Regions from separate parts of the Homo sapiens genome. Here region 1 is linked to region 2. Evidence: fine-mapped expression QTL. A gene starts in region 2. The other region holds a variant in brackets. All regions are shown on one strand. Distances are from middle to middle.

The links. PIP is the estimated chance that this variant, and not a neighbour inherited with it, causes the effect.
Region 1: its variant is the best candidate, but not a certain one, in a credible set for the expression of LINC01398 in thyroid (GTEx, PIP 0.68).

What each region holds. Positions count from the first base shown.
Region 1 is chr1:46,396,768-46,401,152 of GRCh38, reverse strand. The region is part of intron 1 of FAAH (fatty acid amide hydrolase); the gene reads right to left. Among named protein-coding and RNA genes, the nearest start is that of FAAH, 4.6 kb to the right of the region's middle. The variant C/T (reference allele first, on the strand shown) is at 2,314.
Region 2 is chr1:46,448,006-46,452,390 of GRCh38, reverse strand. LINC01398 (long intergenic non-protein coding RNA 1398) reads left to right here and starts at 2,687. Exons shown (of 3, transcript NR_121680.1): 1 at 2,687-2,904. RefSeq lists enhancers at 3,547-4,060, 4,061-4,385.

The sequences.
Region 1 (4,385 bases), 51 kb after region 2:
CTACTCCCCTCCCCCTACTCCCCCTCCTCCCCTGGCCTGCTTCCCCCTCCTCCCCTCCCCACTTCCCCCTCTTCCCTCCCCAATTTCCCCTCCTCCCCTCCCCTGGTTTCCCTCCTCCCCTCTACCCTTTCCCTCCTCCCCTCCCCTGGCTTCCCCTCCTCCCCCTCTACCCTTCCCTTCCTCCCCTCCCCTTGCTTCCCCTCCTCCCCCTCTACCCTTCCCTTCCCTTCCTCCCCTCCCCTTCCTTTCCCTTCTCCCCTTCCCTTCCTCACCTCCCCTTGCTTCCCCTTCTCCCCTCTACCCTTCCCCTCCTCCCCTCCCCTCTTACCCTCCTCCCCTACCCTGGCTTCCACTCCTCCCCTAAGCACCTCTGACTCCAGGCTCTCCACTCATCCCACATCCCCCAGATCCCCTACCCAGCCCGAGGCAATGGAGCCCAAACCAGCTCACTGGGCTATTCCTGTCACCTGTCCACCTTCCCTGTCCTTCCTCTAAGCTCATCACCTGCCCGACTTTTGACCAGCTCCTCCTTATGTATCCTGTACCCTGTACTCAGGGGAGGCCCCGCCATCCATCCAGGTGTTCAGGAAATGAAACAGGTGTCTTTCTGGCTCCTCCTTCCCACCACCACCTGCATCCAGTCACCAAGCTAAGTAGCTCTGAAAAATGGTCACCTCTCCATCCCCTCTACCAAGGCCCTCACCGGGCCTCAGACTCATCCTTGTCTCCTAGGTCACACGCGGCCACCCAACTGCTGCCCTGCCCAGGTCCTGCACCTCCAACCCACACTTTCCACTAGGGCCAGACAGTGCAAAACCCAACCTGGCCTTGCCTCTCCCCTTAAAATCCCCATCTCATCACACCACAGGCTCCAGAGCATATTCCAGGAGGTGCTTCCAAGCTGTGGTCCTCTCAGACTCATGTGCACCTCTCCCCACCCAGGCACCACTGCCCCCTCCCACCCCCCACACCCCAGAGCCTGGCGCCTGCCCTCTCCGAGCACATGCCACAGCCTCTGCCCCCTGATGTCCTCAGTGTCAGGAGCACTTCCCTGAATTCATTGAACTGATAGAGTACTTACTTTGGATTTTTTTTCTAACACAAGGAGCTACAAAGAAGAAAAAATGGGTTCAAGACTTCTCCCCAAACACACTAGATAATCCTCTTGATATATTCTTTAAAGGTATACAAAATGAAAAGTGAGCATTCCCTCCACCCCTGGTTCTCCTTGCACAGTCCCTCCTCTATAAAGGAAAACTATAATTAACAGTTTCTGGTGTACTCTTACAGGAAAAGAAAATATTTATGAAAAACCCACCATGTCAACAGTTGTCTATATATATTCTTTTTTGCACAAAGGAATCATACTATACACACAGTACTGCATCTTGCCTTTCCCATCTCACAATGAAAATCAAATTTTGCTTTATTTTTGTTTTCATTATATAAATACAGGTTCATTGTATTTTAAAAAATGCCTAAGAGTATGGAGAAGGACATCGAAATCAGCAGAGCATTCACCACCCTGGAATAACTGCCACCTGACAGTCCGGTCACCAACTCCCCCGACCTCGCTACAAGGCGCCCACAGAGTGCCTGTGCACGGCAGCTAGCAGCTAGCAATGTGCTCCCCTCCACGCTCAGCACACATTTTCATTCTTTCCTATGTTCTTGCCTGTTGACAGTTAATGACACAGCTGCTAACAGCTATTTTTAAATCTTCAACTAGTGTCAGGCAGCTGAGACATTTTCTCCTAGACACCAAAGTAAGTCTGCACCTCCAGAAGACCAATCAGTGAACATGCGGAAACCTGATTTTGCGGAGAATGCAGGGAAGTATAGTATACAGGTAACATCTAAACCTGTGGCCACCTGCATGCACAATTTTTCAAGAGAGGGATACTCTACCAATCACTTAGGAGGCATTGCCCCTCCTCCATCTGTTTTGTTTTCTCCTTCTGAACCACAATGCCAGTGGGATTGATAAGCGGGTTGTAAGAGATGTAGGAAAAACCATTCAGGGTAAAACAAAACTGCATGTACAAAGGCATAAGGGCATAAATAGGTGTTCTGTGATGTCTCTCCCAGCTATACTATTCTATTGATGGTGGTCCTTCTCTTCGGTCTAGAAAAGATATCAAAACTTATTCAGGGGGCAGGGTGGGAAAAAATGGGTGAAGCGTCAACAGAATTACCAGAAACACATTTTTCTCTAGATTTGCTCAAGAGTTTAGAGAGAGGTGAACTATTTTGTGAAAATTCAGAAGGTGTTTAGGTACCCCTTCATCCAGCTGTGTCCTCCTTGGACACAGC[C/T]AAGAATCCGGGAGTGGTGGCTCACACCTGTAATCCCAGCACTTTGGGAGGCCGAGGCAGGCGGATCACCTGAGGTCAGGAGTTCGAGACCAGCCTGGCCAACATGGCGAAACCCTGTCTCTACCAAAAATGCAAAAATTAGCTGGATGTGGTGGCAGGCACCTGTAGTCCTAGCTACTCCAGGAGGCTGAGGCAGGAGAATCACTTGAACCCGGGAGGCGGAGGTTGCAGTGAGCCAAGATTGAGCCACTACACTCCAGCCTGGGCAACAGAGCAAGACTCTGACTCAAAAAAAAAAAAGAATCTTGGTTGCCAAATCGCTTTGTCCAGAATCTATCAGACAGGAGCTTTACTACAAATCGCTGTGTTCTCCCAGGGCCTGCTGGAGCCCTGCTTATCTCAGGTGCCCCCTTGTGATTCAGGGCTGGGCTAAGAGCCCCAGAAGAAAGGTTGCCCAGACAGTCACAGATCCTACCTGCCCATCATTCAAGGACTCCAGAGCCAAACAGAAGGGTGCCTTAGGAGTTGTAGGCAGAAGGGAGGAGAGGCGGGGGAAAGAGCTGTTCCCAAGCCTGGGCTGGGTTCAGCTAAAACTCCCACGTCCTGGCCGGGTGAGGTGGCTCACACCTGTTATCCCAACACTTTGGGAAGCCAAGGCAGGGGGATCACCTGAGGTCAGGAGTTCAAGACCAGCCTGGCCAAGATGGTGAAATCCCATCTCTACTAAAAAATACAAAAATTAGCCGGGCATGGTGGCAGGCACCTGTAACCCCAGCTACTAGGGAGGCTGAGGCAGGAGAATTGCTTGAACCCGGGAGGTGGAGGTTGCAGTGAGCCGAGATTGCACCAGTGCACTCCAGCTGGGGCAACAAAGTGAGACTTCATCTCAAAAAAAAAAAAAAAAAAAGAGTTCAAGACTAGCCTGGCCAACATGACGAAACCGTTTATACTAAAACTACAGAAATTAGCCAGGCATTGGCCAGGCGCGGTGGCTCATGCCTATAATCCCAGCACTTTGGGAGGCCGAGGCGGGCGGATCACCTGAGGTCGGGAGGTCGAGGCCAGCCATGGCCAACATGGTGAAGCCCCGTCTCTACTAAAAATGCAAAAATTAGCCAGGCATGGTGGCAGGCGCCTGTAATCCCAGCTACTCGGGAGGCTGAGGCAGGAGAATCGCTTGAACCTGGGAGGCAGAGGTTGCAGTAAGCCGAGATCGCACCATTGCACTCCAGCCTGGGCGACAGAGCAAGACTCCGTCTCAAAAACAAAAAACAAAAATAACAAAAACCAAAAAAAAATCCTACTCCCCCGCAAAGCCTACAAAGCTATTGTCAATCAGGACCCCACCCCTTTGCTGATTACTCAAAACCACAATCACTGGAAACCTGAAAGGTAATTTCCCGCTTCTCCTCCTGAAAGAGCCAAGCTTTCAGAGCCAAAACTTCTGTCCTGGAATAATCTGTTCGTAAAAATAATGAAGAGCAGTTGCTCCAGAGGAAAACCATATAGATGCTGCTGTTTGGAGCCGAAGTGCAGGAAGACCCATCCTGCTACCATCCCACACCCCTGCCAGCCAGGTGGATTCCTTGCAACCAGGAGGGGAGTTCTGCAGGCAAGAGCTGTGAGCAGATCCCTGCTAGTGCTGCCCACGCTGCTCTTGGAGCTGGCAGAACTCAGCTGGCTGCACAGAGCCAGGGATAAACAGGAGGATCTCTAAGGAGGACCTCCAGCGCCCAGCCAGAGAGGGCAACTAGACAGTGAAGAACCTGTGCTTGTGTAGGGGAGATGGCCAATTTGGGTTGACCACCAGGGCCCTCTCACTCTGGAAGGAAGAAACCCTAAAAACTGACTGATGGTGGACTTTTCAGCCAGCTTGGTGAGTGGAGGCTGGAACCAGATATATTTTTTATCTTACTAAATAAATATGAGATATCTTGGCCCCAGGGATGGTTTGGAGTAAATTCATACATTACAGCCAGCCAAAACCGCAACACATGTGTGGGGAAAAGAGAGATCAGACTGTTACTGTGTCTATGTAAAAAGAAGTAGACATAAGAAATTCCATTTTGTTC
Region 2 (4,385 bases):
CATAGCCACCATCAGACCACCTGGGACTCTGTTGCTGAGGACATGAATAATTAGACATCCTCCAGAATGCTGAGCCCCTCACCTCCACCCATGGCCACCCAGGCCCACAGACGATACTCCACCCCCAGCCCCACTCTGCTTCCTCTTGTCTCTCATGCTGCTGAGTCCCCACCCCACCCCAGTCACCATCCCTTGCCCTGGGACTCCATTCTTTGTTAAGATCTCCTCCCTTTCTGGGCCTCAGTTGCCTCATCTGTAAAATGGGAATAACAATGCCTTTCTATGCCCATCATCCTGGAGCTGGAGAAGCAATGCCAGGACTCAGAGGGTAGACCTCAGTCTCCTCAAGTCTCAGAATTCTTCATTGGACCATGGGGGTCATCTTAACTCCAGAGGAGTTGTCAGTAGTTGTGGCCGATTTTGTGGGTGATGTTAAAGGAAACAAGACTCCCAGGCATCCCAATATATATACACACCCAGCCATCTCCCAAGGAAGCTGGTATATCAAGTAGTCAAGAGGTAGAATCCTCCAAGCCCAGGTGCAGGAGAAGGTTGAGTCCTAAATATGAGGGGTGCTCTGTCCCAAGCATACAGCTGAGGAGGTCTGAGCCAGGCCCTAGTCCTCTAGCCCAGGCTCTGGCAATACAGGTGGCTTCCAGCTCTTAGAGACCTTACCCCCTACTCCCAGCAACATGGGGCCTGACTGAACAGTTGTCCAAGTTTCCCTGACTGGAAAGCAAAAGAGGTTACTCCCTACTCCACATCCCTGCCCACTTCTCCCGATCAGCCTTCCACAGGGGGCCCCCTCTCCTCCCCTCTCTTTACTTCCCTCTCCTGCTCCATAGCACTCTGGAAAACTTTCTTTGATTAACCTCTCCCAGCCAAGAGCATTCAAAGAGGCTGTATAGTGCAGTGGTTGAAAGCACCAGCTTTGGGGCCAGAAAAGCCCCAAATCACAGCTCTGCCCTTTGGCTGGGTGATCTTGGGCTCTTCATTTAATGTCTCTGAGCCTTATTTCCTCATCCTCATCTGGCAAATGAAGCCATAAATGCCTGGGTCTAGGATTGTGTGACGATCACATGAAGTCATGAATGCAAAGTGACTGGCATAGAGGAGATGCTCAGCAAATGCCAGCTGCCATCTCCCCCCAACCCCATGCTACATCTAACTGTGTCTCAGTTTTCTGCTGCACTTAGAGGATAAGGATGAGAGCTGAGGGTGGGGAGAGAAGGAAGAGCAGCAGCAGTAGCAGCTTCAGGAGGCTCCTGATCACTTAGAAGAGATGAAGGCTGAGCTACAGTAGGAGAGACTCAGGTTAACCCTGAGAGGGACTTCCCATACTGAGACCCTGGAGGAAGCCACATTTCAAAGGCCCCGCGTAAGTTCAGTCTGTTCCCAGGACCATATCCTTATCCTAGAGGCAGCTCCGAGGAGGCAGCAGCTGCCCTGTCTGGGGAGCAGTGGGGGAGGTGAAGAGTTCACTGGGCTCCGGGGCTGTGGGCTGCAGGCCTCCCACCCAGCCCTGGTGCCCTGGCCTGGCCCACTGTGGCCACATAAAAGGTGACGGATGGTTAATAGGGGAGATAACAGGATTCATAAGGGAAATTTATCGGTCACTCTGGTGGTATAAATATGTTTATAGCGGACCAAGGGGAAATGAAGAAGCCCCAATAAATCACCATGAAGCCACCAGCCACTAATAGGCAAGCAGCAGTGGGAACCCCAGTGTTGGCGATTGCAGACACCCCCTCTGGCTGCCCGCTAATGGCATGGCGGGGCTGGAGACTCATCAAGCTGGACAGACGCCCACCCCACGCCATGGCAGGAACAAGACCCCAGGGGCCACCTCTGCTGGACCTGAGCTGCCCTGCCTGCTGTGCAGCCCCCACTTCCCCCAGTCTGGACTCAGCCAGGCTGGAAGGGCTGAGGGAACAGGGCAGGGGGTATATGGACCAGGTCTAGGAGGCTTCATGGTGCACAGGTTAAAGAGACTCTGGAGTAAGAACTGGCTTCAAAACTTTATCTGCCATTTCCCAATCCCTGCCTGTCTTAGAATTTCCTTGTTTGCAAAATGACTTAGCAATCTTAGAAAGAAGCTGTTGTGAAGAGTAGAGAGATAATCCATTATCATAGTGCTTGGTATTTTGTAGCCTCAAAAATGGCACCTCAGCCTCCTGAGTAGCTGGGACCACAGGCATGAACCACCACGCCCAGCTAGTTTTTTTTATAGAGACAAAGTCTGTTGCTCCTGAGCTCAAAAGTGCCAGGATTACAGGCGTGAGGCACCTCCCCTGGCCAGCAACATTTCATAGATGAGGAACCTGAGGCTCAGAAGTTGAGGCTTGCCTGGGATCCCACAGCTAGAAGAGAAAGGCTCTGTTTGATTCCCAAGATGAGAATCTTCTCACTGCCCCAGTGTAGGCCCCATTCCTTCCTCAAAGTCACTGGGGGTTCCCTGAACCTCTTCCCCCAGAAGAGACCTAGGATTTCAGGGGCCGTGAAGCATTCAAATCAAAGCCCCGGGGCTCTTGCGGTGACTTGCTGGTGCTGATGACAACTCTCCATCTACCCCTTCCCTCCCTGCCCCTGCTACTTCCTGTACCCGTCTCCCCAAGCAAGGGCTGGACTCAGCTTCTGTGACCTCACCCCAGTACTGTGGTTGCCTAAAGCCTTCCATCTGATCTGTATGGGAGGCCCATATCTGGGCTCACCAGCCCTGCCATCTTTGTCACAGCCTCTGTCCAGGCCAATGTGTCCTCCAGCTCAGCTTACTCCTTCATTCATTTTTTCAGGAAACATTCAAGGACCTTCTTCCAAGGGCACAATACTGAGCAACATGGACAAGGTCTGGCCCTATGGTAAAGTCAGGTCTGGATCATGGAATTGAATGGGGTGTGTTGCCAGGTATCGTGGGACTCATGCCTGTAATCCCAACACTGGGAGGTTGAGGTGGGAGGGTTGCTTGAGGCCAGGAGTTCCAGACCAGGCTGGACAACACAGCAAGACCCATGTCTACAAAAAATTTAAAAAATTAGGAGGGCATGGTGGCATGTGCCTACAGTCCCAGCTACTTGGGAGACAGAGGTGGGAGGATCACTTTAGCCCAGGAGGTTAGGGCAGCAGTGAGCTATGATTGCACTACTGCACTCCAGCCTGGGTGACAGAGTGAGGCCCTGTCACTAATAATAATAATAATAATGAGTGTATTGTGTTGAGGCTAAGGTAGCACAGAGGCTGGGGAGGGCAGGAATCACAGAATGAGTAGAGGGAAGGCAGGAAAAGCATTTCCAGAGGAGGGAACAGCTTGAGCGGGTGGGGAGGAAGCAGGACTTCCTGGGCCCACTGAGGCTGGCTGGTCTCCCGGTTTCTCTCTCAATGCTGAAAGGCTGCGCATCATCTCCTACATAAGCTCCACATCACTTTGTCCCTATCCTCAAGCCCTCCTCCCTTTACTCGTGGTCATGCTGTCCAACCATCGTTCTTACCTCCACCCTGGACAAAGCCGCGGCCTCCTCCCCAGTTTCCTGCCAGGACGGCCGGTCCCTCTGCAAACTACGCCCAGCCCAGCGCTGCCTGAGCCCCAGATCTAACCCCAAACCCCTAGTCTAGGGGACTCCCTGCCCAGTGCCACAGTCAGCAGTGCGGAGGGCCTGCGTCCTTACACAAATGCCAATGGAAGGGGAACAGGGCCTTGGAGGTCCTGAGACCCCACCTCTCCTCGCCTGCTCGGGGGAGAAGAGGAACTGAGCCGCCTTGGCTCCCGTCCGGCCCTCCGCGCGTCTCGCTGAATCTCGGTCTCTCCCCGCCTCTCCTTCGTGTCCCAGACTCTCCAGTCCCTGCCTCTCCGGCTCTCTCCCGGTCTCGGGCTCCGTTTCTCCGTCTCTCTCCCTCCCGAGGCCCCCTCCCCAGCCGGGCGGGGTAGATCGCTCCGTAAATAGGCGGATGGCCCGGGGCGCTGCGAGCGCAGACACTCGTTTTTAGAGCCGGTAATTGACTCCTTTCAGTTGATAATTCATGGCTTGCATATGCGCTTTAATGCGGGCGCCCCGGGAGGCGCGGCAGGCGGGGCGGGAGCGGGGCGCGGGCCTGCGCGGCCGCCCGTCCATCCGTCCGTCCGTGTCCGCGGGAGACGTGGGCGCTCCCACCCGGGCTGCCTGCCCAGCGCTCCCGAGGCCGCGCGCGGCGGAAGGGGCTTGAGCTGGGCCGGACGCAAAGGCCGGGCGGTCCCTGGGCGGCGCAGGGCCTACTGGCTGGTCCTTCGAACTGAATGCGGGCGGGGGCATGTGGGCACCCCTTCCCTATGCAGCCAAAGGGGAAACTGAGGTTCAAAAAGGCGATAGGTCTTAGGCAGAAACGAGATCAGAATTCAAGACCCCCTTCCCGTA